4 linked regions of the Homo sapiens genome follow. The protein of the gene in region 4 binds, or shares a complex with, the protein of the main gene of each other region. Each region holds a gene or a part of one and is shown on either strand. Other genes may lie near its edges.

Region 1 (5,658 bases), on a different chromosome or scaffold from region 4:
TGGTCCAAGACCATCCCCCAAATCATCAGCTCTGATTGCAGGATTCATCAGTTTGCCGTTCTGTTGCAATCCCAGTGGAGATAAAAGCATAGACCTAGAAAAAGCCTTAAGAAGGAAGGTTGCAAGTGCCCCCAGCTTGCACTTGAGGAAGGGGTAAACCTTGCCACTGCACTCCTCTGTAGCTGCTCCACTGTGAGTTGACTGCTCGGCCTTGTACACACCCCTCCTAGAAAGACGTTTAAGCCCCTATTTCCCTTCTCTGGTGGTCAGTTCCTCTGCTCAGACGACCCCCTTCCCCACTCATTAAGGTAATTGGCCAGGCAGGCTCATGGGTCACGTGCTGAGTCTGCAATGTACAGAATCCAGACCACCACATGGCATCAGCACCATGGGTGTTTGCTCCCTGAGCAGTAGTTGTCACCCATCATTTGCTCTGTTTCCCCCACCATCAGTCCCAAAGCCCTAGACTAAACCAGAGAGCAAATTAGGTCGTGTTTGTTCCTGAATGGGCCAACTGGAGCCTTGAGACAGTGGGCAGTGGTCTGCTCTGCTGGTTTGATGGACGGCTCCCTGAGGTAGACTCTTTCCCAGCAGAATGTTAAGATCCCCAAAGGGTCCCCAAAGGTGCCTTTGCTTGTAGGGAGAAGTTTCTGTCTTGTCACAGGGTGTGGTCATCCCCACTGTCTCCCAGTTGTTAAAATAATTGTTACCTTTTCTTTTGGGAAGAAATAATCTGTAGATAATGGAACCAACTGCTGCTTATCGGTAGGATTCCATGTTCCAGGAAGGATGCGGCCTGAGGGTCAGTGGAGCTGTGTTCTGCCTTCCTCCTCTAGTCCCATCTTGTCACCCTGGAGGACTGTCTTCAATTGAGCTTTACTAGAAAGTCTTGAAACATGAGCCCTGCAGAGGCCTTGATTTAGCAAGTTGTGCCCTGCTTATATGTGCTGATTTAAGCTAATCAAATGATTTAATAGTGCTTTTTAAAAAAGAGTACTCCTGGCCGGGTGGGGTGGCTCACACCTGTAATCCTAGCACTTTGGGAGGCCAAGGCAGGTGATCACCTGAGATCAGGAGTTCAAGACCAGCCTGGCCAACATTGTGACACCCCGTCTATACTAAAAATACAAAAATTAGCCGGGCATGGTGGCAGGCACCTGTAATCCCAGCTACACAGGAAGCTGAGACAGAATTGCTTGAACCCGGGAGGCGAAGGTTGCAGTGATCTGAGATCATGCCACTGCACTCCAGCCTGGGTGAAAGAGCGATACTCCGTCTCAAAAAAATAAAGAGTACTCTGGCCGAGTGCAGTGGCTCACGCCTGTAACCCCAGCACTTTGGGAGGCCAAGGCAGGCAGTTCGCTTGAGGTAAGGGGTTTGAGACCAGTCTGGCCAACATGGGGAAACCCCGTTTCTACTAAAAATACAAAAATCAGCTGGGCATGGTGGCAGGCGCCTGTAATCCCAGCTACTCGGGAGGCTGAGGCAGGAGAATCACTTGAACCCAAGAGGCGGAGGTTGCAGTGAGCCGAGCTTATGCCACTGCACTCCAGCCTAGGCGATGGAGTGAGGCTCTGATTCAAAAATAAAAATAAGAGTACTCTGTGGACTTTTCATAAAGTGCAACTTAGTGCTTTGTTTTTCTAATACTAGATTTTACTTGCAGATAGAAATATAACAATGCCACAAATGAGAAGGCTCAAGTTGTTTAAATACATGTTTGCTCCTGGCTTACCTCTTCTTCACTATCCCATGAGAATCGTGGATTTGCCTTTCCTTGCATCCTGCAGTTCTACTTGTCTCAGAGAGAACTGCACACCAGCCCTGCATCCAGGGGATGAGGTTCTTTGACCTGTAGATGGGTCCTAAAATGAGAAGGGAGAGAAGCAGCCAGACCTTGAGCTGCTCTGCTAGGGGAGCTGTGAGTTGGGAGAAAAGTGGTCACTGGTTGGCAGTTAAGGACTTGCTGAGAGAGACATTTGTAGGAGAAAGAAGATAAGTAGGTTCATACCAGAAGGGCCAGGACTCGGATGGAGCAAATCCCAGTTCTTGTCCTACAAGCTGATTGTGCGATTGAGCACAGGCCTCTGGAATTGTGCAGAGATGAGAAACAGGCTGAATTTGCAAGGCCACAACATCAGGTTGTCATGTACCCATCATTACAGCTTATGCCCAGAAGTCCTGACCCTGTGACAGGTTATTATCTTAAAAACTCATCTTCAGCCCACTTTTTCAGAGAACTAACTCTTTCCTTAGATGTTGGGCCAGGATTTCACTATTTACCCAGAGAAACTAAGAGAAAGTGGCACTAGGCGTCTTGTCTTCCAGATGTGAGATTTCGATCTTTCTAATGAAATTGGGGGCACTTTGAGACTGTCAGGGTTTGTTCCTGTCTCAGAATGGCTCATAATAAACTCACTGAAACACTCAAAGGAAAGTACTGACTTGATCTGGATCCTTTTCAGAGGCCTGGAGATTTAATTTCACAGATTCTCTTCTTTTGGCTCAACAACAACAGCAACAAAAAACTCTTTGACTCCCCAACTTCAGAGGGAAAACTGAAGCGAAACTGGTGAGCTCTGCCACGGCAGATGCCTTCCTTTTTCACTCACGAGCTGGGCGGGCTCATCAAAGAGCAGGAAGTGCCCATTTTACACTGGGGCCAGGATGCAGACCCAGCTCCTGTCCTCCGCGAACTTACAGTCTAATTAGAGCCTCTTAAGGACAATTTGGCAGCCACTGTTAACTCTTGATGCATCATTTAAATCCTAGAACAGGCAGCTTTAAAGCAAAGAACTACAGACTTTTCCGCAGTGTCCAGCATTTGCTGACCAAAAAAAACCTGAGGGTGATTTTTCTCTCTTTGAATTTTTACCCTTGCCTGCACCTAGCCAGAACCCTTAATACTAAATTTGCAGTTATATGCAGCTCTGCCAACGCCTTCCTGCTTTAGACTGGATCTCTACTATCCTTTTTCTCTACTAGGCACCAGAACCTTTGTCTAGTTCATTAGGTGGTTCACATCACTTGCCAAATTTCCAGCATGCCACTCAGGAAGTGACTTGAGCATGCTGAATGCTGAGTCAGAAAATGAACCCCTGGGCTGGCGGGTTGACCCAGGCCTGACAAAGTCTTGGCAGTCCCCACACTGACTGCGAACTCTCCCTTAGCCTCAGTCAGCTGGGAAAGGAATTGAGCCCTGTGTCAGCAAATTGGGAGAAAGTGTTACATATAAAATTCTTGATGGAAATGTGTGTTTTATATCAGAATTGAGCTTTTGTTCCTGCATCTCAGAAATACCAGGAAGAAGTCAGCATCTCATTAAACAGGAGTTGTCTAAACTGTGGAAGAAAATATCCCCCATTCTTTATCCTACGCTGAATCCACAAGTCTTCCCATCTTCCACCATCTTCTGACAGTTCCATAATATATTGGTATCCCTCACAGGGCAGGGACAGGAAGGAAATAAATCTTTCTGCCACTTGTTTCCAACCGAAAAGGAAAAAAGTTAAAAATTACTAAAGTGTTCTGAAAAGAGATTTCAAGTGGTCTGTGCTGCTTTTTTGCCTTGTTACGCACATAACTTGTGACTGGCTAGATAGGCCACGTGTATTTATCAGCCAAGATTCCATTGCAGCAGATGATTTCAAAACCTCTTTGTGTGCTGGGCCGTGCTAGGTAGCTGGAATATCTGAGGTAAATTAAGCACTGATTTGTTCCCAGAGTTGTGCATAATTCTTTAAAAGTAGGCTCGTTTTTTTCGTTTTTTTGTCCAGGATCACCTAAGTGAAGTACTCGTGGTTCTAAGTTGCTAACCCAGGGAAAGAGGATATTTTCCTGTCCTAACCTTGGTTTTTGAAATATGCTTCTCCTGTGTGCCCTCTCTGGGGTATCTGGCCCACAGTAGATTGCTCAGCAGATATTTGAATGAGCAGATGCTTTGCTTTGTCCTCCTGTGCCAGGCTCCTCCCCACATCCTCTGGATCAGCTCCACGTGCCTAGATTCAGACTCCGTGATTCACCGTGGGGGCCCTTAATAGGCATTCAGTCTGAAAGAAGGTGGAGGAGAATAATGTCTCCCAGGATCAAATGAGACTCAGGGCTGTTCCTTCAAAGACAGAAACTTGCAGAGCTGCACAGCAGCAGGGAAACATTGAGAAGGGGGTGGAAATTTGATGTACTGTGAATAATGAAGGCCGGATCTTTAAAAAGAAAAAGGGACGGGGTGCTGGCAGAAACCCAGCTCTGCGCTAGCACAATCTGTACACCTGGCTGCCTTTGCCCTTGAGCTTCTATTTCTTGGGGATGGGGAGGGCAAAAAAGTTTGCCCCAGACACTGGCTTCTGTTTGAACAGGAAGTGGGGAGTCAGTGATCCCAGAGGGGACTTCAGCATCAGGACATATGCTTTGGTGGCCTCAGCAGACCTGGCCTAGGCAGGCTTTCAGGTGGCACCCAGGGGCTTTATGGCCTGCAGGTAAGGCCCCTTCATCCGGGTCAGACTTAGCAAATAAAAATATAGGACACTCAATTAAGTTTGCATTTTGGATAAACAGTGAAGAAGTTCCTAGTGTAAGTATGTCCCAGTTCTATGTGGCTGCCCTACCTGGGCTTGCCTCTGCTGGTACTAGCTGCCCAGAGACCTTCAGGCCTGCCACGGGCTGCCGGGAGCTCTCTAGTGGAATTGGATTACCCTGATTTTGTGCATTGTTTGTGCTTTTGTGGGCATCGGAAATGACTGAGATACGCAGTTTTGAAGAGCTAGGCAGGCAGCTGAGCGGGATAATGTGGGCCCCAGTTGACCTCAGTGGCTGTCATCTACTGTGTTTTTCAACCAGGAATTTCAAATACTGTGTATTTTAGAAAGAAAGGAAAGAGCCAAAGTACAGCCTTTTCTCACTTGATCAGTAACTTGTGTTAGAAACTCAGTGGGGGAGAATTCTTTGCGTTTTTCAGTTGACTGATTATTTTCCTTTTTTTCTTTTTTGCTTTTCTCGAGTCACTCTGTGTGGTGCTTGTGGGAGAAGGGAGAGGGTGGGAGAGCGTTGGTGGATGTGTTCTGCATGTTCCTTTCTGTACAGTAACTTCTGCATTTACTCTGTTTAGGATGGTTCCTTCACCACTATCCCTGTCTGTAGCCAGTAAATTTCTGGAATATTCTCCCAGAGTGCCATGTGCCCCCTTTGTTCAGTCCTTCAGTGGAGCAGAAGCCTCTCTCAGGCCTTTCCTGGGAATATCTTTAGCTGAGGCACAGCCTGGGGGCTCCTCAGAAGGTGACAGAAGTGCCTCTACCTGGCCTCGGGGCTTAATGAGCCAGGCCCCTTCTCCACTCCCTGCAAAGAAGGCTCCTAAGGCCTATCCAGTCCCTGGGTCTGCGAAGTCCCCAGAGGTCTCTGTAAGTACAGGACTCCCATCCCAGCTCTGAATTTGTGCTTTCTCCCCCTGAACTTCAGAATTCTTGGCCGGAAAGGTCAGATTCTGACTGTGGTGGGACAGTAAGTCAGAAGCATTCTGGTGATAAACCCAGCATGTGGCATGCATTCTGGGGGCTAGGAACAGCTAAGATCTGTAACCCTTTATTTTAGACCTTCAGTGGAAAGCATTTTAAATGGGGGTTGAGAGCCACGTATTGGCCTTGGGGAAGGGGAGCCGGAATTTGG
Region 2 (7,038 bases), on a different chromosome or scaffold from region 4:
CACACATAAAACAAGTGATCGGTTATATATTGATTGGTTGAACAAAATATGACCAGAGGCTTGCAGGAACCTAACCCTGTATTTCCCCTAGGAGCAATGGTTCAATATTCACTAATTCAGTATTCAAGGCACTGCACTCCAGCCTGGGCAACAAGAGCAAAACTCTATCTCAAAAAAAAAAAAAAAAAAAAAAAAAAAAATCACAAATATATAAACATATACATACTGATAACTCCCAACTTTTCCTCTCTAGCCCAAACTTCCTTGTCTGAATTCCAGCTTTGTATATCCAAGTGCCTAGTCAACATCTCCACTTAGATCTTGAATAGGCATCTTAAAACGTAACATGTCGGACAGGCATGGTGCCTCACGCCTGTAATCCCAACACTTTGGGAAGCCAAGGAGGGTGGATTGCTTGGGCCCAGGAGTTTGAGACCAGCCTGGACAACATGGCAAAACCCCGTCTCCACTACAAATACAAAAATTAGTTGGACATGGTGGCACGCCTTTGTAGTCCTGGCTACTTGGGAGGCTTAGGAGGGGAGGATCACCTGAGCTTAGGCGGTCAAGGCTGCAGTGAGCTGTAATCTGACCACTGCACTCCAACATGGGCAACAGAGACTTTGTCTCAAAACAAACAAACAAACAAACAAAACAAAACACACACACACACGAGAGAAACATGTCTAAAATTAAATACCAGTTTGCCTCCAATTCACCAACCTTATCCTCCCACATTCTTCTATTTCTTGCATGCCCACATCAAATCAATCCATCAGCAAACCCCATCAACTCTCTTCAAACATATCTAGCCTACACCACCACCATCTTTTACCTGGCTTAGTACAGCAGAATCCAGACTGGCCTGTTTCCATCCTTGCTGTAGTCTCAACATGGCAGCCAGGACAGCCTTTGGGAACCTAAGTAAGATCTCAGGCTTCCTCTGCTCAGCTCTCCAATGCCCCCTCACCCCATATGGCTTAGAAGTAAAAGACTAGCTTTTACTGTGCATCAACCGTGTCAACTACTTCACCCACATTTATGTCCTTTAACTAATTTAATGATCACAACAGCCCCATGGGACAGGTATTATTATCTCCACTGGACAGATGAGGACCCTTAAGGCCGTTAAGTAGCTCACTCAAGATCTCACACCTAGTGACCGGGCACAGTGGCTCACACCTGTAATCCCAATACTTTGGGAGGCCAAGGCAACAGGACTGCTTGAGGCCAGGAGTTCAAAAAATAAAAAAATTTGGCTGGGCATGGTGGCTCAAGCCTGTAATCCCAGCACTTTGGGAGGCTGAGGCAGGCGGATCACTTGAGGTCAGGAGTTCGAGACCAGCCTGGCCAAAACAGCAAAACCCCATCTCTACTAAAAATAAAAAAATGAGCCAGGCAGGATGGCGAGAGCCTATAATCCCAGCTGAGATCGCCCCACTGCACTCTGGCCTGGGCAACAGAGTGAGACTCTGCCTCAAAAAATAAATAAATAAAAATAAAAAATAATTGGGTTAGCCGGGCGTGGCGGCTCACGCCTGTAAACCCACCACTTTGGGAGGCCAAGGCAGGCAGATCACAAGGTCAGATCGAGACCATCCTGGCTAACATGGTGAAATCCCGTCTCTACTAAACAAAATTAAAAAATTAGCCAGGCGTGGTGGCAGGCGCCCGTGGTCCCAGCTACTCGGGAGGCTGAGGCAGGAGAATGGCATGAACCCGGGAGGCGGAGCTTGCAGCGAGCCGAGATCGTGCCACTGCACTCCAGCCTGGGCAATAGAGCGAGACTCCAGCTAAAAAAAAAAAAAAAAAAAAAATTGGGATGGTGGGATGGAGGGAGGCAGGCAAATCACTTGAGGTCAGGAGTTCAAGACCAGCCTGACCAACATGATGAAACCCCATCTCTACTAAAAATACAAAAAACAAAACAAAACAAAACAAAAACCAGCTGGGCATCATGGCGTATACCTATAATCCCAGCTACTTGGTAGACTGAGACAGAACTGCTTGAACCAGGGAGGCAGAGGTTGCAGTGAACTGAGATAGCGCCACTGCACTCCAGCCTGGGCAACAGAGAAAGACGCCATCTCAAAAAATAAATAAATAAATAAAAACTTTAGCTGGTGGTGGTAACACATGTCTGTGGTCCCAGCTACTTGGGAGGCTAAAGTAGGAGGACCACTGGAGACCTGGAGGCCAAGGCTACAGTGACTGGTGATTGTGCACTGCAGCCTGGGGAACACAGTGAAACTGTATTTAAAAAAAAAAAAAAAGGCCAGGCATGGTGGCTCATGCTGGTAATCCCAGCACTTTGGGAGGCCAAGGTGGGTGAATCACAAGGTCAGGAGTTTGAGACCAGCCTGGCCAATATGGTAAAACCCCATCCCTACTAAAAATACAAAAATTAGCTGGGCATGGTGACGCGCGCCTGTAGTCCCAGCTACTCAGGAGGCTGAGGCAGAAGAATCACTTGAACCCCGGAGGCAGAGGTCGCAGTGAGCTGAGATGGCGCCACTGCACTCCAGCCTAGGTGACAGAGAGAGACTCTGTCTCAAAAAAGGAAAAAAACCCACCTCACAGCTAGTAAAAGGCAGAGCTGGAATGCTAACCCAGGCAGTGTGGCACCACAGACCATGTTGTTAGTCACCCTGCTATGTAGGCTGCAAAAAGCTAAAGTCTCAGTGACAGCCCAGGGGGCTGTCTCAGACCTGGCCTGGTATCGCTCTGTCTTTATCTCCCCAGCTCATCCCTCCCACCTACCCCTACATAGCACAGCCCCTCCTGCCCCACCCTGGCTCTAGAACACAGCATCTACAGGCCCTGCTATCTGGAATGCTTTCTTCAGCCTAGCTCTCCTCACCTCCTTCAGGTCTCACCTCCAATCTCTCATGAGGGAGGCCTTCTTCGATGCCCCTCCAGCACTTGCAGCCTCCCTCCCTTCTTGGCACCTTGGCAGAGCATTTCACTATGTGCCAGGATACATGGTACTAGCCTATGTGTTGCTGTTCTTTCTCCACACACAGGATATAAACTCCATAAAGGCAGGAATCTTTGCCTGTTTTAGTCATGGTGTCTCCTTGGTGCCTTGCAAATAGTAGGGACTCAATAAATACTCAGTGAATGACCAGGAATGGTGGCTCACACTTGCAGTTCCAACACTTTGGGAGGCCAAGGTGGAAGGATTGCTTGAGCCCAGGAGTTCAAGACCAGCCTGGGTAATACAGTGAAACCTCACCTCTACAAAAAATAAAACTAGCCAGGCGTAGTGGTGTGCGCCTGTAGTCCCAGCCACTCAGGAGGCTGAGGTGGGAGGATTGCTTGAGCCCAGGAAATCAAAGGTGCATTGTGCCATGATCGCATCACTGCACTCCCGCCCAGGCCGCAAAGCGAAACCCTGTCTCTAAACGACAACAACAAACCTTAGCGAATCAATCAGAGACTCAAACATTTGGCCCACTACTTCCTGTGAGCCACCGTGCCGGGCCGAATTCCAGGTTTTCTTTTCTTTTCTTTTTTTTTGTCCTCACAATCTGTTCCCAATTTCAGGCTTTATAAGTTTAGTTGACTTTCCATTAGCCCAGTCAACTAGCGATCTCCTCCCTGCCACCTCCCAATTGGGTCAGTCAGCAGAGGTGAATGGAAATACCTAACACATAGAAAATACATCCATATACACATATACGACATGCTGACTTCGAAACTGATGATCCAAAGTAATGTGCAAGCTCATTTACATCCAACCCTGTATGCACCCCAGCCCCTGTCAATTGGTTTTATATCATTACCCAGGCATGGTGGTTGGCACTTGTGGTCCCAGCTACTTGAGAGGCTGAGGTGGTAGGACCGCACAGGAGGCGGAGGTTGCAGTGAGCAAGATCAGGCCACTGCACAACAGCCTGGGGAACAGAGTCGGACTATCTTTTCTCTTTTATATTTTTATTTATTAATTTGTTTTGAGATGGAGGGTCTCACTTTGTTGCCCAGGCTAATCTCAAACTCCTGGGCTCAAGAGATTCCTGACTTGGCCTCCCAAAGTGCTGGCTGGAATTACAGGCATGAGCCACCGCACCCAGCCGAGACCCTGTCTCAAAAAAAAAAAAAAAAAAACGGTTTTGTATTCCTTTTTGTGTCTTCTCTTCCTTAGATCCACAAAGAAATCAAATTTCCTTTTACCCTGGAAAAGTCTTCAAAGCATTATTTTTCTTACATGGTACCTCGGTTTTAGACTCTCCCATAGAGCAGGGAAGAAAAGATCCAAAAGAGTCTCCATAGTAACAGACTCCAAAAGCCAGCCTACTGCTGGAGGCTCAGTGGGTGTCCTCAGACCCACCCGGCAGCACCAGGGACAGTAGGACACATGGTGGGAGGTGGGGGCCCGGCCTGTCTTACCAAGTTCCAGAAGCTGTCATGTTTGCTTGGATTCTCACTGCCCAGAACATCTGCCGACAAACTGTCCACCTCGCACACATGGAGCCGGACCCAGTCAAGGAGATGGAGGAGGAGAGGGCCAGCTGGGAGGAGAGACTCTCATCACACACAAAAGCCTCAGCTTCATCTGCAGCAAGTTCCTTTATCCAAGGAACAGAGAACTTTAAGGCAGACAAGCTGACTACATAGGTTTATCCCTTTTAAGCAGTCACACACATGGTCCTGAATGACAGACTGTGCTAGGAAAAAGCAAATGCACTTTCACCAAATATTACTTCTGTGCCAGGCAGCTCCATCTTTAACTGACCCCAGAAAGGGGTGAACATGGAATGCAGACCTCACTACCCCACACTCCAGATTCTTCACAAATACTTAATAGCTACATAAGTAATGGCCGTTTAGGAACCAACAATGACTAGATAGCAAGCAGCCAGGTATGCAATGATGATAAAAACATAGGGCCAGGGGGCTGGTGGTGCACACCTGGAATCCCAGCACTTTCGGAGGCTAAGGCAGGTGGATCATCTAAGCTCAGGAGTTCAAGACCAGCCTGGACAACATGGTGAAACCCTGTCTCTACTAAAAATACAAAAATTAGCCGGGCGTGGTGGCGCATGCCTGTAATTCCAGCTACTCAGGTGGCTAAGGCAGAATTGCTTGAACCCAGGAGGCAGAGGTTGCAGTGAGCCAAGATCGCACAACTGCACTCCAGCCTGGGTGACGGAGTGAGACTCTGTCTCAAAAAACAAAACAAAACAAAACATATGGCCGGGCATGGTAGTTCATGTCTGTAATCCCAGCACTTTGGGAGGCTGAGGCAGGCAGATCGCTTGAGCCCAGGAGTTTGACACTAGGCTGGGCAACATAGGGAGACCCCATCTCTACAAAAAAAAATAAAAAATTAGCCGAGCCAGGAATGGTGGCTCACGCCTATAATCCCAGCATTTTGCGAGGCCAAGATGGGCAGACTGCTTGAGCCCAAGAGTTCAAGAACAGCCCGGGCAACATAGCGAAATTTCCTCTCCACAAAAAATACAAAAATTAGCCGGGCGTGGTGGTGCAGGCCTGTGGTCCCAGCTACTTGGGAGGCTGGGCAGGAGGATTGCTTGAGCCCAGGAAGTCGAGGCTTCTGAGCTGTGATCACGCCACTGTACTCCAGCATGGGTGACAGAGCAAGACCCTGTCTCCCCTCCCCCAGCATATACACACAAAAAATTAGCCTAGCATGGTGGCACGTGCCTGTAGTCCCAGCTACTCAGGAGGCTGAGACAGGAGGATCGCTTGAGCCTGGGAGGTCCAGACTGCAATAGCTGTGATTGTACCACCACACTCCAGCCTAAGTGACAGAGTGAGAACTTGTCTCAATCAATCAATAAAAATAAAATGAAATAAAATGGCAGAGTACAGCCAGCACTCCGTATCCATGATGTAGAACCTGCAGATACAAAGAGCCAACTGTAACCTCCTCAAAAATCCACTGGAGAAGGGAGGCCTCTGAACAACCAACTCTAATTTCAAGTTCCTCACTTCTTTAGTGAGAGTATGAATAAAATGCTAGGGCTACACAGAGGTTACTACTCATTTATGGAAAATAGCAAACATAAATCCTTAAAAGAAATGCAAAAAAGCTGCAGCAGATCCACAGAGAGCTCATACAGGCCATGACACTATACTGACCACAGTTTAATTCAAGATCAACAGAAGGCTGGGCACGGTGGCTCACACCTGGAATCCCTGCACTTTGGGAGACCGAGGCAGGCAGATTACCTGAGGTTGGGAGTTCGAGACCAGCCTGACCAACATGGAGAAACCTCATCTCCACTAAAAATACAAAATTAGCCAGGCGTGGCAGCGCATGTCTGTAATCCCAGCTACTCAGGAGGTTGAGGCAGGAGAATCGCTTGAACCCAGGAGGTGGAGGTTGCGGTGAGCTGAGATCACGCCATTGCACTCCAGCCTGGGCAACAAGAGTGAAACTCTGTCTCAAAAAAAAAAAAAGATCAACAGAAAAATTCCCATTGGCAGAGTTCATACCCATTGGCAGAGTTAACACACAGAGTTGCCCTGTCCCAATGATTCATGACAGAATTCCCAATGTGACTTTGCCTCTCACCACCTAATCCTACCCCACATTCATAAAACTTTCTTAAGCTTGGCCAGTCCATGATGTTAACACTGACACCCCCTTTCACACACTAGTTTAATATTTCTCAGTACTTGTCAGGGTTTAGGTTTCTTGGAGGCACTCTGCATGATTCTTTTTGCAGCACCTGACAAAACGGTCAGGTTTCTTTGGGTGTTTTCTAACGACTTCCCGTGGTTATAATGATGGAAAGAACATTCTCAGGAATAAAACACTCATCACCATGCACAGGAAAGATGAGGAAAGAGCAGAAGATGGAAGGGGACACCTATGAGATTATGGTGAGATATTCCATGCCTACCTGGGGCCACTTCAATAAAAAGAATCTCACACAGGTTCCAGATGAGCTCCATTGCTGACAAAATGGAGACCTAAGGAAGAAATGGGGACAGGTTTCACCTGAAATGATTCCTGAGCTTTGCTCTCAGAGCCAAGGGATAAAGCAGACTTTGACTCATATGACAGTC
Region 3 (7,038 bases), on a different chromosome or scaffold from region 4:
TCTTTTAGTTATTTGGCATGTTACAAGTTCTGCTGCTTTTATAAAATACAAGTTAGAAATGTTAGGAAAAACAAATGAGACATGCTGATTTGAAGAAAAACTTTTGATTTTTATATGGTGATTCTGAATCCAGCCACCTTATTGAAGATTTTTTTCTAAACTATTCCAATAATCTCTCAGTTCCAATACCGCACACTATCCAGGGCTGGTCACAGTACACTATGGGCATTAGTATGACTTACAGAAAATGGAACATGTTGGCTTACTTTCAACCTGGCTAATGGAAGAATGGTTAAGAGTGTCTACCATAGCCTGGTGTTTTCATCATCAAATCTGATTAGACCCTATCATGTTTTTGTTGCTTTCCAAATAATATGTAATTTTAGTTTTGATTTTGTCTTTATATTTCTAAGTAAATATATAACAGACAAAAAACTGCTCATAGCTATTTGTTGAATTCCATACTTTTTAAAGGTTAATTTTGAGTGTTTCCAATTTATTATTCAAAAGTATTCATGGATATTCAACTTTTGCATTTTTTGCACATCTAAAAACATCTGTATTTTGCCTTTGTGTTGGTGTTTTTTTGTTGTTGTTGGGTTTTCTTGAGACAGAGCCTTGTTCTGTTGCCCAAGCTGGAGTGCACTGGGCCAATCTCTGCTCACTGCCACCTCCGCCTCCCAGGTTCAAGAGATTCTTGTGCTTCAGCCTCCCGACTAGTTGGGATTATAGGTGTGAGCTACGGCACCCGGATTGTCTTTATATTTAAACACATTTGGCTAGTAACAGAATTCTAGGTTCAAGAACATTTTCACTTTAAGGGCACTGTTGTTTTTAGCATGTGATGTTACAAATTAGAAGATGATGCTAATCTGATACCTGCCTATTTGTGGCAAATAGCTTTTCTCTCTGAAAGCATTTGGGGTTTTAGCTTTGGTGTCCTAAATTTCAGTGATCTTTGCCAATAGGTAATTTCCATTTTTAAGACCAATGTCTTTCTTTAGATCTAGAAAATTTTCTTCTGTCACTTCTTTGATATTTCCCCAAAACTTCTTATCTTCTAGGCCACTCCTATCCCAAAGGAACTTGTGGATCTAACTTGGATCACTCTTTGTACTGGTGCACTAAGTTTGGGGAAATTCTAGTTCACTAATCTGATTATCAGCTATGAAGTTCTTCCTGCTATTCAGCTCACAGAATGACTTTAATAGGATCCACCAACAATCATGCTTTTAACCTTTAAGGTGCTATGTCATTTTTTTCCCCAGGACTTCAGCTTTCAAAATCTCTTGTTTTCTCAGGATTAATTATATTTGTTGTCTATGTTTCTTAATGTTTGATGAGGACTGGTTATCTGTAACTATTTGTAAATAAAGGCCTTCCCATAGATTATGGTAGAAAATACTTCATAAGCTAAGAATCCTTATTTTCCAGGTAGTAGATACCAATTCTGATTATAAAAGCCCAAACAGAAGAGAAAGACACACATAAATATGCACTATATTGAGCTTTGCATTACTGCTGTATTTCTCAAAATTAGATCCACAGATGACTTCACCAGAATCATGAGGGTTTTAAAGAGCAGTTCAAACTGAAAATCCTAGGTTCCTTCCCAAAGAGTTCTGTATTTCTCAACTATGTTCAGTGTAAACCATTAATTGACTTGCTGCATCTGTCAAGGCAACTTGTAAAACGACAACTTGTAAAAAAAAAAATAATAATAATAATAATAAAAAGTTAATACTTACCAGCTGTAGTACTAGTTTGAGCTCCAAAGGCAAAAGTGGCTTTTGCTGGCTGTTCAGATTCCTTCTCAGATGGTTTTGTCATACTAAAACTAAATGTGGACTTTGAAGAATTCTCATCTTTGGTTTGCTCTGAATTCCCAAAGGAAAACACTGGTTGACACTTTGGCTCTTCATTGTCAGCTTTCTTCCCAAAAACTAGGGAAGTAGAAGTGACAGGCTCTTGCTGTTTCTCTTCTGTCCTTCCCAAAACAAACACTGAGGCAGATGGCAGAGAGGCAGGCTCCACGTTGCCAAAAGAGAATCCTCCTTTGGTGGCAGGCATTTCTTCTTTTTTAGCTTCTGATGTCTTACATGTGAAAGGAGCCACTGAAGCACTCTTGGTTTCTATGGTTCCAAGGTTGAAGCTGCTCTTGTTCTCAGAGGTCACTATGGTGTTAGCAGGAGCAGGGGTGGAGTTAATAACACCTGTACCAAAGCTAAAACCTGCAGAGGAAGATTTGGGCAGTTCCTCTTTCTTTTCTTCCTGTCCAAGATTAGATACCCCAAATTGAAATGGAGTTAAAGAAACTGGGTTGCTTAAACCAGAAGAAAGTCCAAACTTAAAATTATCATTCTTACTATCTTTTTTAACTTCTTCGGGCTTAGATTCAGATGAAACTCCAAATTTAAAATCTCCTATTGGTTTAGAAAATTTAAAGCCTTCACTCATGGGGTTTATAGACCCAGAATCGGATGACACACCTATTTTGAATCCTCCCTGATCTCCAAATTTAAAATTTCCAGTGCTTGTTAAAGTCTGAGAAGGCCCAGAAGAGGATGATGAGACACCAAATTTGAAGGATGAGGAGGCTGCTGAGTTCGAAGATGAGGAAGATGTGTCAAAGCCTACAAAAATATAAAAGACACCACATAGACACTCAATGTACTGATCCTCTCAAACAAAATGTAAACACTGTGAAAGCCAAAGAAACATAGGAGTAACTTTGAAAGGGCCTACTTTGAAGAGTATTACCAGCAGCTGTAAACATAATCCAAGGTGACCTATATTTAGTCGGTATGAGAATGATATCTCAATCCTCACAACTATCCTGACAAGCCACTTTTCATTTATCAGACTGGCTGCGATAAAGTTTGATAAAGTTTGTACTAGTGATGAGACTGGAAGTAACAGGCTACACATTGCAGGTGGGTGTATAAATGAACACAAAACTCATAGAGAGCAATCTGTCAATAGTTACCGAAAATTACAAATGCATATACCCTTTGACCTTGCAATTCTATAGCTGGAGTTTGTTTTAAAGATAAACTCATAGACATGCAAAATGCCATATGCAATCCAGGCAGCTATAAACGAAGAAGGAAGAACAAAGATGTGTCCAAGATAATCCCTGATAAAATCAAAGGGGCAGAAAGGGAGTGCGGTATACAGACTTTTCTAACAAGGTAAAAGGAAGTAAGAATATATAGGGGTATGTATGTTTGCCTTGGATGGGCATAAAGAAACTTTGAAAGATTTACAAGAAACTAACCACAGTTACATTTGGAAGTGGGAGGGAAGGTGGAAAAAGAGACAATGGAGAGAAGAGATTGAACCTTGTCACAATTTCTTGATTTTTAAATCTTGTGAATAAATGTGTTATTCACTCAAGCATTTAAAAAAGGAAGGCAACAGAAAAACAGAAGAATTACAGAGTTGAAGCAATGTTTATAAAGTTAAACATCAGACTGGGCGTGGTAGCTCACGCTTGGAATCCCAGCACTTTGGGAGGCCAAGGCGGGCAGATCACCCGAGGTCAGGAGTTCAAGACCAGCCTGGCCAACATGGCGAAACCCCATCTCTACTAAAAATACAAAAAAAATCAGCCAGGCATGGTGGTCTGTGCCTGTAGTCTCAGCTGCTTGAGAGGCTGAGGCAGGAGAATTGCTTGAGCCCGGGAGGTAGAAGTTGCAGTGAGCCAAGATTGCGCCACAGCACTCCAGCCCGGTCAACAGTGAGACTCCACTTCAAAATAAATAAAGAAAAGAAAACAGAGGAGAGCAGAGGAGACGGGAGACGAGAGGGGAGGGGAGACAAGAGGGGAGAGGGGAGGGGAGAAGGGAGGGGAGAGGGGAGAGGGGAGAGGAGAGAAGAGAGAAGACAGGAGAGAAGAGAGAGGAGAGAAGAGAAAAGAGAAGAGAGCAAGCATTATACTGACAAGATCAAAGTCTTGGTTTCATAATGCTTTTCTGCAGCTAAGGAAATCAGAAATGAAGTACTTGACCTACTGGCTCAAAACAAGGATCATTAAGAAGTACTAAGATACTTAAAAGTATGGTGATTACCACACTACAGGTAGAGAACAGTATAAAAAGGGGAGCATGAATTAACAGCTACAGAAAGAGATAAAATGAACCAGAAAGCACAAACTTCTAAAACACTTAAATGCAGTGTTTTTCAAACTGCTAGTTGTATACCATTAATCATCAATTAATTTAGCAGGCTGCAACCAGCACTTCTCTTTTAAAATAAAATAAAACAGAAAATACCAGGGAACCTTACACCTACCAGAGGCAAGTATTATTTTGCAAAACAGATTTCAATCATATAGACATATACGCTGTGCAGGTGATGGCTCACAATATAAAAGGTTTATTCCTGACTTTTGGTTTGCAATCAAGAGTTTGAAAGCTAATTACAAAGTAGATAAAGCTTGCTATTATTTTTGTTTAATTTGTATAAATTTAAGGATTACCAGTGCAATTTTGTTACATGGATATGTTGCCTGGCAGTGAAGTTTGGGCTTTTAGTATATTCATCACCCAAATAATGTACATTGTGCCCATTAATTAATTTCTCATCATCTACCCCCCATCCCATCCTCTCACCGTTCTAGGGGTCTACACTCTGTCCACTGAGTACACTTTATTTAGCTACAACTTATAAGTAAGAAGATGAAATATCTGTCTGAGTTGTTTCAAGACATTAATCCTCACACATTTTCTCCTTGCGGGCTTACTCTTTTACAGAAGACTTGAAAAATCTGGCCTCCAGACCAGGCGTGTTGGCTCACGCCTGTAATCCCAGCACTTTGGGAGGCCGAGGCGGGTGGATCACGAAGTCAGGAGATTGAGACCATCCTGGCTAACATGGTGAAACCCCCGTCTCTACTAAAAACACAAAAAATTAGCTAGGCGTGGTGGCAGGTTCCTGTAGTCCCAGCTACTCGGGAGGCTGAAGCAGGAGAATGGCATGAACCCAGGAGGCGGAGCTTGCAGTGAGCAGAGATCGGCCACTGCACTCCGGCCTGGGCGACAGAGCAAGACACCATCTCAAAAAAAACACAAAAATCTGGCCTCCAGTTAGTTTAGGATTAATTACTTTGAGGGAGTCTTCCTTTGTACTTATATAGTAAAATATTAAGAGTTCTTTTCCTGGGACCTACTTTGGGAAACCAAAGCCACAGCCTGTATCGCTTTTAATTTAGAGGTGTATTCCCAGTCAAATAAAAGTCAGTAAGTTCATCTGGGCGCGGTGGCTCACACCTGTAATCCCAGCTACTTGGGAGGCTGAGGCAGGGAATTGCTTGAACCTGGGAGGCGGAGATTGCAGTGAGCAGAGATCGCGCCCCCGTACTCCAGCCTGGGCAAAAGAACAAAACTGTCTCAAAAACAAACAAACAAACAAACAAAAAAACAAACAAACAAAAAAACAAAGAACAGTTCACCTAGGGGGCTAGCAGTTAAAAACAAAAAACAAAAACTCTCTGAGGCTCAATGACACAAGAAATTTTTTTTCCCACCTGGAGAAAAGATACCTCACTGTTGACAAGCAACTAATATGACCTTACAATATTCAGAAACAGATATAACTAAAACATCTCAGGATAATCTCATTTTATATTAATTTTCAAGAGAGAATGAGTGAACACTGAAGCTGTTCTCAAATACTTCATTTTTAAATGGCCTTACAAAAAGGCGCTTTACCATCACCTTTATTTTTATTTTTTTGGCCTTACCTTTAAACCCAGATTTTGTGCCTGGCTTTGCACTTTCACATGCCAAACATTTGGTAGAGTCTGCCTTATTCTGCACTAGGCACAATTCACAGTCCCAGCTTCCCTCGGGTTTCTTGAACTTTTCCAATCCTAGAGAGCCTCCAGAAGGCAGAGAGACAGGTACAGTGCTGCTACTTGAAGCAGGTACTGAACTTCCTAAAAAAAAAAAAAAAAACGGGGAGTGGGGGGAGATTTCATGAAAATTTTAATTTACAGTATGTCAGTATCTTAATGGCACTGCTAAGTTTAAGTGTTCAGTTTCTAATAATATTTCCTATTAAAACACAGAATGTGCCAGAAATAGACAACTGTTCATATTTACATTGTTTAAAAAAAAGAATAGACCTCTCTTTTAACCTTATAAATGATTTCTTTTAACCTTATAAATGAGCAGCTCATAATCACCTTGCTCACTGGTGAGCTCCCCCTTAACCACATGTTTGAACTGCTGTGGTTTAAGAAAAAAAATCATGCTCGCAAATTAGGGGCTCAAAGACTAAATTTTTCTTAAGAATCTTTTTCAAATTTCTTCAAAGCAGCAAGCATTCTAAGACATAAGATGTAAATTGTAGGCAATATCCTAACATATAAAATACACAGCCACAGACCATATGAATTTCAAGATTTGAAAGCATAGATCTCTGCCTCTGAATGATAGCTTTTGCACAGAAGTGCATCTACTTCACATCCACTTCACAATCTAACTTGACACCTACTACATTCCTGACATTTGTTACATGCTAGCCATTTAACAGACATTTATTAAGCATCATAATATACTTGGGTTCTGGGGACATTAAAGATGAATAAAATGTTGCTTAACTTGTAAGATGCTCATGGTCTTAAAGGGGGAAAATAAAAGCACAGTGGCACCATCACCAAGTGACAACCTAAAACAAGTGTGCAAAGAAGGAAGAAATGACTAAGAGGCAGGAAAAGGATACACAGAGGTGACAAATCTTAAGCAAAACTAGCATGTTTGTGGGAGAGGTGGCACAGGAAGAACGGCTTGGTAAGGCCCAAAATATAGTGCTGACAGTGAAGCCATTCATTCTGGTATTCCTACTTCTCTAGATGGCCTACAACTGTCGCCACCTCTTCCATAGTTACCTAACTGATCTCTACATTTTATAGGTATGTTCTCTTCCATCTTGCCAACCAAATTGCTCCCTGGGGTTCCATCTTGGCCCACTGTCCTCACAAACTCTCATTTACTCCAGTGGTTTTTAAATCCCCAAAAAACAGTTTCCTAATCT
Region 4 (7,038 bases):
AGAGTGCAATCACTTCCTCTTGGAGGGTCTCACAGACATTCAGCACCAGCTGGGAGTACTGGGGGATGTCACTTACTGTAGAATAGACAGGGAGGGACACTGTCATGCTCACCAGGCCAACTCTCACTGTACACCAAGGTTTCCTTCCTAGGAAGGGGCTGGAGATGTACTAGGGCGCTAGGAGGGACAGCATCTGTCCAGTGGGAGAGGAGGGAGAGACACATGAGGGAAAAAAATAGCTTTCTTGGGGTAAGAATTCCATGACTGGAAACTCAAAAGTCCCAGAAGAAATGTGTGGCCCTAAGCTGAAGGAAGCCCTGCCTGGCTGTCAGCAGGAGTGGGCAGACTGCAGCTGCTGCTCCCCCTGCCTCTGCCCCTCACCTTTCATCTCCTTCATTTGCAACACTGTGATGAATGCTGAGAACACCTTGGCCTTGGTCTTCTCCATGAGTTGCTGGTCGGCCTGCAGCACTCCCTCCAGGATCTCCGTCAAGGGTCCAAGGATTTCATCCACAGAACCTAACTCTCTAGAAAGAATACTGGGTGGGCCAGGCGTGGTGGCTCATGCCTGTAATCCTAGCACTTTGGGAGGCCAAGGCGGGTGGATCACCTGAGGTCAGGAGTTCGAGACCAGCCTGGCCAACATGGTGAAACCCTGTCTCTACTAAAAATACAAAAATTAGGCATGGTAGCGCGCACCCGTAATCCCAGCTACTAGGGAGGTTGAGGCACGAGAATCACTTGAACCTGGGAGGTGGAGGTTGCAGTGAGCCGAGATCGCGCCACTGCACTCCAGCCTGGGCGACAGAGTGAGACTCCGTCTCAAAAAAAAAAAAAAAAAAGAATACGGGGTGGGGAGTGAGACAAAATACCTCATAAAAGGCCACACACTGCCCCTGCTCCATCTCAGGATATCCACCAGTCTGCCTCACCCTCCTATCTGCTATGTCACTCCCATTCCTCAAGATGGAAAACCAGCCCAGCTTCCACCCACTATTTCTCCCTTTCAGGAAGGCAAGCAGGCACTGACAAGAAGGCTCTGGCCTCGGGCTTGCCTCTCCTGGCACAGCCTCACCTCTTCCACTGCCGGAGGAGGATAAGCAGCAGAGTGCACTTCATGGAGCCAAGGCGAAGGCAGTTCACTGAGGCTGGAACTAGGAGCTGAAAGGAGACAGCACACCAGTCAGAAGTCAGTGGAAAGATTCGCATGCCATCCACAGGGCACCTCCGGCCTCATTGCCTTTCTTCCCCAGCAGTGAGCTCACAGGAGTGGAGTGGAGGGGGAGAAGCCAGGGTTGGCATGGCAGCAGCAGAGCTCTGCTGACCCACTACAGTCTCAGGCCTCCCAGGCCAACGTGAGCCCTGTGACCTGACTATTTGTGCGGCTGGCTGGCAGACTCATGACCTCTGCTATTTGACTTCAAAGACAACCTCCCTGGGAGAAATGTAAAATCTCCCAGACACACTTACTAATGCTTTGGTTCCATCAAGCACGTCAAGAAAGAGCTGGCGACGCACCACAGAGTCAGTCAGGTGCATTATATCTGCCTGCAAAGGAACAGAAAAAGGTTTCAGCTGGGAAAATTTTCCAGATTTTAGAGGCCAAGAAACATGGGGTCCTCTGCTAGGCAATTAGTCATTGGTAAAACAGTCTCCCTGATTTAAAATAGGGCTTATATAGGCCGGGCGTGGTGGCTCATGCCTGTAATCCTAACACTTTGGGAGGCTGAGGTGGGCGGATCACGAGGTCAGGAGATCAAGACCATCCTGGCCAACACGGTGGAACCCTGTCTCTACTAAAAATACAAAAATTAGCCAGGCATGGTGGCGCGCACCTGTAGTCCCAGCTACTCGGGAGGCTGAGGCAGGAGAATTGCTTGAACCCAGGAAGCGGAGGCTGCAGTGAGCCGAGATCGCACCACTGCACTCCAGCCTGGCGACAGAGAGAGACTCCGTCTTAAATAAATAAATAAAATAAAATAGGGCTTATAGTCTGGGCAACATGATGAGACCCTATCTCAACAACAACAAAAAATGTTTAATTAGCTGGGTATGGTGGTGCATGCCTGTAGTCCTAGTTACTTGGGAGGCTGAGGTGGGAAGATCACGTGAGCCCTGGAGGTTGAGGCTGCAGTGAGCCATGATTGCACCACTGCACTCCAACCTGATCAACATAGTGAGATCCTGTTCCCTAAAAAATAAAGTAAAATAGGGCTTGAAGGCCCTGCTGTTCTTCTGTCAACCCTTAGATATGGTCAGAATCAAGCCCAGGTTCACCTCCTCTTTGAGACTCTGTCCTCCCTCTGCTTAGAATCCTTGAAAGGCTTCCCAGTGCCCGGGAAACGCAAACCAAGCTCTTCAACATGGTCCAAAGACCCCACAGGATCTGGTCCAACTGATGTAGTATCAGTCCCATCTGTGCTCACTCTAGTCCAACCCTGCTTGCCTCTTTCATGAACATATCAAGCTCTTTTCCACTGCTGGAACTTTGCACTTGCAAGTCCATCTGCCTAGACTTCTCTCCTCCACGGGCTCCACCTGGAAGGCTTCTTCACACATTCAGCTCTCAGCTGGGACATCACCACTCAGAGAAGGCCACCCTGACTACTTCTATCTCATGTGTTCATTACCACAGCACTTTAATTATTTCCTTCACAGCAAATTATCACTATCTGAAACCATATTTTTTATTGCTAAATTTGTTTATAATTTACCTCCTCCATCATAGGGCACTCTCTATGCGATCAAAGATCTTATCTGCCTTATTCACTGCTGCATCTCAATGCCTGGAAGCGTTCCACTAATGCCATTAAGAGAATGAATGGGTGACCAACATCCTGGACTTAGGTTTCTTTCTCTTTTTTTTTCTTTTCTTTTGTATAGGTAGACAGGTGAGACAGAGAGCCAGATAGGTTTCCTTTGGGGAAAGAGGATGGTGGGATTTTCAGAGCTACAATTCAAGAACTGCTGCCTAACTAGGGCCTAAAAGGCAGGTGACATAAAGGTTATACCCTGGGGAATCAACCATTCTCAAAGACAGGTGAGCCTTTAAGTGTGTTTGGAGCCTTAGGGGTCCAAAACCACCATGCCACAGCAAGAGTAGCCACAAACCTGCCCCTCCTAGGCTCAAAGCTCCAAGCATGTGGGCAGTCTGGCACTAGGCAACAAATTTCACAGATGTAGGAGGTGCTTGGAAAAAGGAGGCATCTATCAAGCTGAAGTTGTTCATGAAGTCAAAAGATTAATCTGGGCCAAGCGTGGTGGCTCACACCTGTAATCCCAGCACTTTGGGAGGCCGAGGTGGGTGGATCACCTGAGGTCAGGAGTTCGAGACCAGCCTGACCAACAAGGTGAAACCCCATCTCTACGAAAAATACAAAAATTAGCTGGGCGTGGTGGCAGGCACCTATAATCCCAGCTACCTGGGAGGCTGAGACAGGAGAATTCCTTGAACCCGGAAGGCGGAGGTTGCAGTAAGCCAAGATCGCACCACTGCATTCCAGCCTGGGTGACGGAGCAAGACTCCGTCTCAAGAAAAAAAAAAAAAAATTAATCTGGATACCCCAAGAAAGAACACTTCAATACCAAGTCCTTATGATACAGCGTGACGGAGTCAAACCACAAAAAAGCCAAGAACAATGCATTTCTTCCAGATGTTATCTCTCTCTCTCAAAACCAACTCCCAGTAGACAGAGTACAGAGACAATGGCCTCTGTTCTTTTTCTAAGACCAGGAAATGCAGTTTCTAGAACCAATGACAAACTGCTTTTTAGAGAGGGTGCTGCTGCAGCTGTCACAGCTCCCTGCTGACTAGTCAACAAGTATTTATTGACCTAGCATCTACAAGGTACACAGCACGAGAAGACAGTTATGCCTTTGCACAAGAGGCAGATGCAGCCAGGGAGCAGCTAAGACCCAGCCAAGGCCTAAGGGAGGTACAGGAGGCTTTAGGAACTCTGAAAGGATTTCAAATCACTTCTCTGCATTCCTCTTAATGGTCTCCTGGACCCAACACCCTCAAATACCCCACAGTCCCAATCTCTCAGCATAGAACCTATTACAGTTTAGCTCTCAGGGATAAACCCTGATTAATTCTTCCGCACAAGGAGCTGTATCTGCTAGGCTCATGTCAACACATCATTGCTAAGGTACCAAAGTGAAAACTCTCCCCAAAAGGGTCTTACATGAGTGGTGGCAATGATGAGAAGCATCCTCCAGGCGGACACCAGCATCTGGTACTCTAACAAGGAGGTGCAGCTGCTGCCTTCTGTTTCGGCCACGTGAACTGCCAATGACTTGACATACCCTGACCAGTAGGCAAAGCGTTTCTCGATGGAAAATTTCTTCAGTGTATCCTTTAATGACTGGTCTAATGAACCCCTACAGTGTCAAGAAAAAACCTCCAGTTAGATTTTGAAAGCAGATGGGAATATAATGGGTACAGACCCTTGTTGAGGCAGAGAAAACGACCTTGCATGGGCTTAAAGGCAGACGGCTCCAGGACACCTCCAACGTGTGGGTTAGGCTGAGGCCTTTCCAGGATTCCTCCTCCATAAAATCCCAGTTGCATGGAGTTTGCTTCACAATAACTCTTTCTGACAATCATAAATGCCATCGGTGGATTGGCCAGGAACACAGCTCACTGGCCTTCCATGAATGGTTCCAAACCAGTTCTCTCCTCTGCCTTGGCTCTTCCAGCCATGCACCCAGTGGTAGGCCACCAACTCCCACTCCCCCAACCTTCAGTTAAAATCTCAAGAGGGGAAAGTACTCACTTTACTACATAGTATATCTCCAAGCAAATTATCTTCATGATTAGGGCACAGGTTTCCAGGATGCTGGGCTGTGGAGATAGCAGAACAGGCAATTATCACATCTCTGATCACTGATCTCCCCCAGTATATCAAACAGGGAACAGAGCAGGGGCCCAACACTTGCAGAACAAGTTAGCACAACCCCTGTTGAATGTGAATGTCCTGACTTGCAAGAGCAGAGGCGTCAGGTCCACAACGTCTCCAACTGAATGGAGAAGACCACAGAGCCACCAACACACAGTAGCGCAAACCACTTTCCTTCCCAAAGCAAGACATCAAAGGGACAGAAAGCTGGCACTTCCCTGAGAAAGACGTTTCTAGTGAAGGGAACATTCTGTTGTTTAATTAGGGGAGGTATCATTGTCTACGGCCCCATCTCACAGCCCACAGCCTTTCCTCCAAGGGACTTGTAGCCACCATCCTGCCCTCTGCCACAGCTTACCTCTGATGTTTCAGAGGGAGGAGAAAGGGTTCCAAACAGCGGACTGGTTAAATTTTCCCAAAACTTGGGTCTAAAAAGGAAATAAATGTTTGAAATCATAACTTTTTCCCTCTCACAGTCATTTTCTCCTCTCTCAAGCTCCCTTTGGTGGTCACTTCATATTTTACCAGTCTCAATCCTAATATGTGTCTGATAAGTCAGTTGTTCCCGTATAAATGAAAGGTTTCCATAGATAAAATTACATTTTCCTCTCATGAATCACACTTATGCATTATAGAGTTGATCAATAAAAACTCTTCAAGATTCCTTCCACTGTAGATTCCCAAAAGCCCCACAGAAGAGGAGGGAGGGAAATAAGACAGCAGACTCCCAAATTTAGCCTTTTAACACTCCTTCCCTTTGTGCCAGCAGGTCCAATAGAACGGAATGTTTCATTCAATCCAGTGACTTGAGCAAGCGCCTCTCTCCTGAATCTACTGTTTCTCAAGAATAATGAGTTTTGATGCAGCTAGTTAGCAAAAGGCAGGAACACAAAAGCAACTGAACCTTCCAGGTGCTTAATATTTAAAGATCCTTAATACTTGCAGCAGCATTAGAAAGAGAATTAGTGTAAAACTCCCAGGTATTGAACCAGGACTAAGCACTCTTATTCCCAGTGAACTGTCACAACAAACCTCTGGGATAAGAGCTATTATTACTCCCATTTTATAGACCAGAACAATGAAACTACTCCCAGAGGCAGACTTACTTGGTTCGGAGGACCAGCATGGCACTGTCCCTCCGATCCTGCCACAGAGCATGCAAAAAGGCAATGGCGGCACGATGCAGCAGGGGTGGGCACCAGTATCGATCTTGCTGTTGGGAATCAATCAGCTCCAGCACTGCATGGAGACAGCTCCACATCCCAAGGCTGAATTCCTGCAAGAAGGGACAGGTAAGAGTTCAGTTCCACAGCCACTGCCAGCAGCTGTACTTGCAGAGCCCAGCATCTGCCTCCCAGTGAGCCAACTCCCAGTGTCATCCCAGGTTACAGGCTTACCTTTGAGCCATCACTGCCATCCTTAACTTCCAGGTTCAGAAACAGTTCGATGAGGCCTGGCTGGGTCTCTACTGCAACAGTGAGGAACTCTAGAATCATGACTTTGATGCGCATGTCCTCAATTTTGCTCTGCAATCGGGTCAGGAAGGCATCACGAATGGCAGCCGCATCATTGCCCAGACAAGCATACACTGACATTGGGGCCACCTGGTGGAGACCGGAACACACAGGCTTAGAGCTCTGCTTCCACAAAAACCTCAATGGGCTCCCACAGAAGGGCACTGAAGAGCTCCCAGAAAATTGGCAGAAAGGGAAGCATCCAGACTACAGCTCTGGGCTAAAAGGGACATCACCACAAACAAGCATGAGATGCCCGCAAATTCACAGGAAAGACAGTAATCAGTATAAAGAAATGCTCAACTTCCCTCATGGTTAAATAAATACAAACTGAAAAGTGAAACATTTTTTTGCTTATTAGATTGGCAAAGACTAAACAATGATGAAGACCTTGCAGCAACGATAGAATACTTGGTGTTATAAGTATAAACTGTTACAATGTTTTTTGGAAGGTAATTTGGAAATATCTAATAAAAAATATCATGTTCATTTATACCTACATAAATCTTTGGAACTGTAAACAAATGTTTACAGGGTGGTAGGGATAATAATGTTCACTGCAGCACTGCTTGTAATAGTGAAAGACAGAAAGTAGCGCAAATAAATCAGGATGCATCCATTCTAGG

The links.
Region 1: NUP188 (region 4) and NUP93 share a complex: the UniProt entries of both Homo sapiens proteins name them as parts of the nuclear pore complex.
Region 2: NUP188 (region 4) and NUP85 share a complex: the UniProt entries of both Homo sapiens proteins name them as parts of the nuclear pore complex.
Region 3: NUP188 (region 4) and NUP153 share a complex: the UniProt entries of both Homo sapiens proteins name them as parts of the nuclear pore complex.

The regions. Positions count from the first base shown.
Region 1 is NC_000016.10:56,845,129-56,850,786, forward strand, and holds the end of NUP93 (nuclear pore complex protein Nup93), read left to right. Parts: 3' UTR 1-5,158; downstream 5,159-5,658. UniProt on the Homo sapiens protein: Plays a role in the nuclear pore complex (NPC) assembly and/or maintenance. May anchor nucleoporins, but not NUP153 and TPR, to the NPC. During renal development, regulates podocyte migration and proliferation through SMAD4 signaling.
Region 2 is NC_000017.11:75,215,658-75,222,695, reverse strand, and holds part of NUP85 (nuclear pore complex protein Nup85), read right to left. Parts: intron 6,943-7,038; coding exon 6,873-6,942; intron 4,512-6,872; coding exon 4,390-4,511; intron 1-4,389. UniProt on the Homo sapiens protein: Essential component of the nuclear pore complex (NPC) that seems to be required for NPC assembly and maintenance. As part of the NPC Nup107-160 subcomplex plays a role in RNA export and in tethering NUP96/Nup98 and NUP153 to the nucleus.
Region 3 is NC_000006.12:17,626,907-17,633,944, forward strand, and holds part of NUP153 (nuclear pore complex protein Nup153), read right to left. Parts: intron 5,939-7,038; coding exon 5,744-5,938; intron 2,634-5,743; coding exon 1,749-2,633; intron 1-1,748. UniProt on the Homo sapiens protein: Component of the nuclear pore complex (NPC), a complex required for the trafficking across the nuclear envelope. Functions as a scaffolding element in the nuclear phase of the NPC essential for normal nucleocytoplasmic transport of proteins and mRNAs.
Region 4 is NC_000009.12:128,992,661-128,999,698, reverse strand, and holds part of NUP188 (nucleoporin NUP188), read right to left. Parts: intron 6,503-7,038; coding exon 6,296-6,502; intron 6,175-6,295; coding exon 6,005-6,174; exon of another isoform or gene 5,665-6,004; intron 5,327-5,664; coding exon 5,257-5,326; intron 4,844-5,256; coding exon 4,776-4,843; intron 4,381-4,775; coding exon 4,185-4,380; intron 2,836-4,184; exon of another isoform or gene 1,549-2,835; coding exon 1,471-1,548; exon of another isoform or gene 1,162-1,470; coding exon 1,076-1,161; exon of another isoform or gene 1,011-1,075; intron 528-1,010; coding exon 382-527; intron 76-381; coding exon 1-75. UniProt on the Homo sapiens protein: Component of the nuclear pore complex (NPC), a complex required for the trafficking across the nuclear envelope. Required for proper protein transport into the nucleus.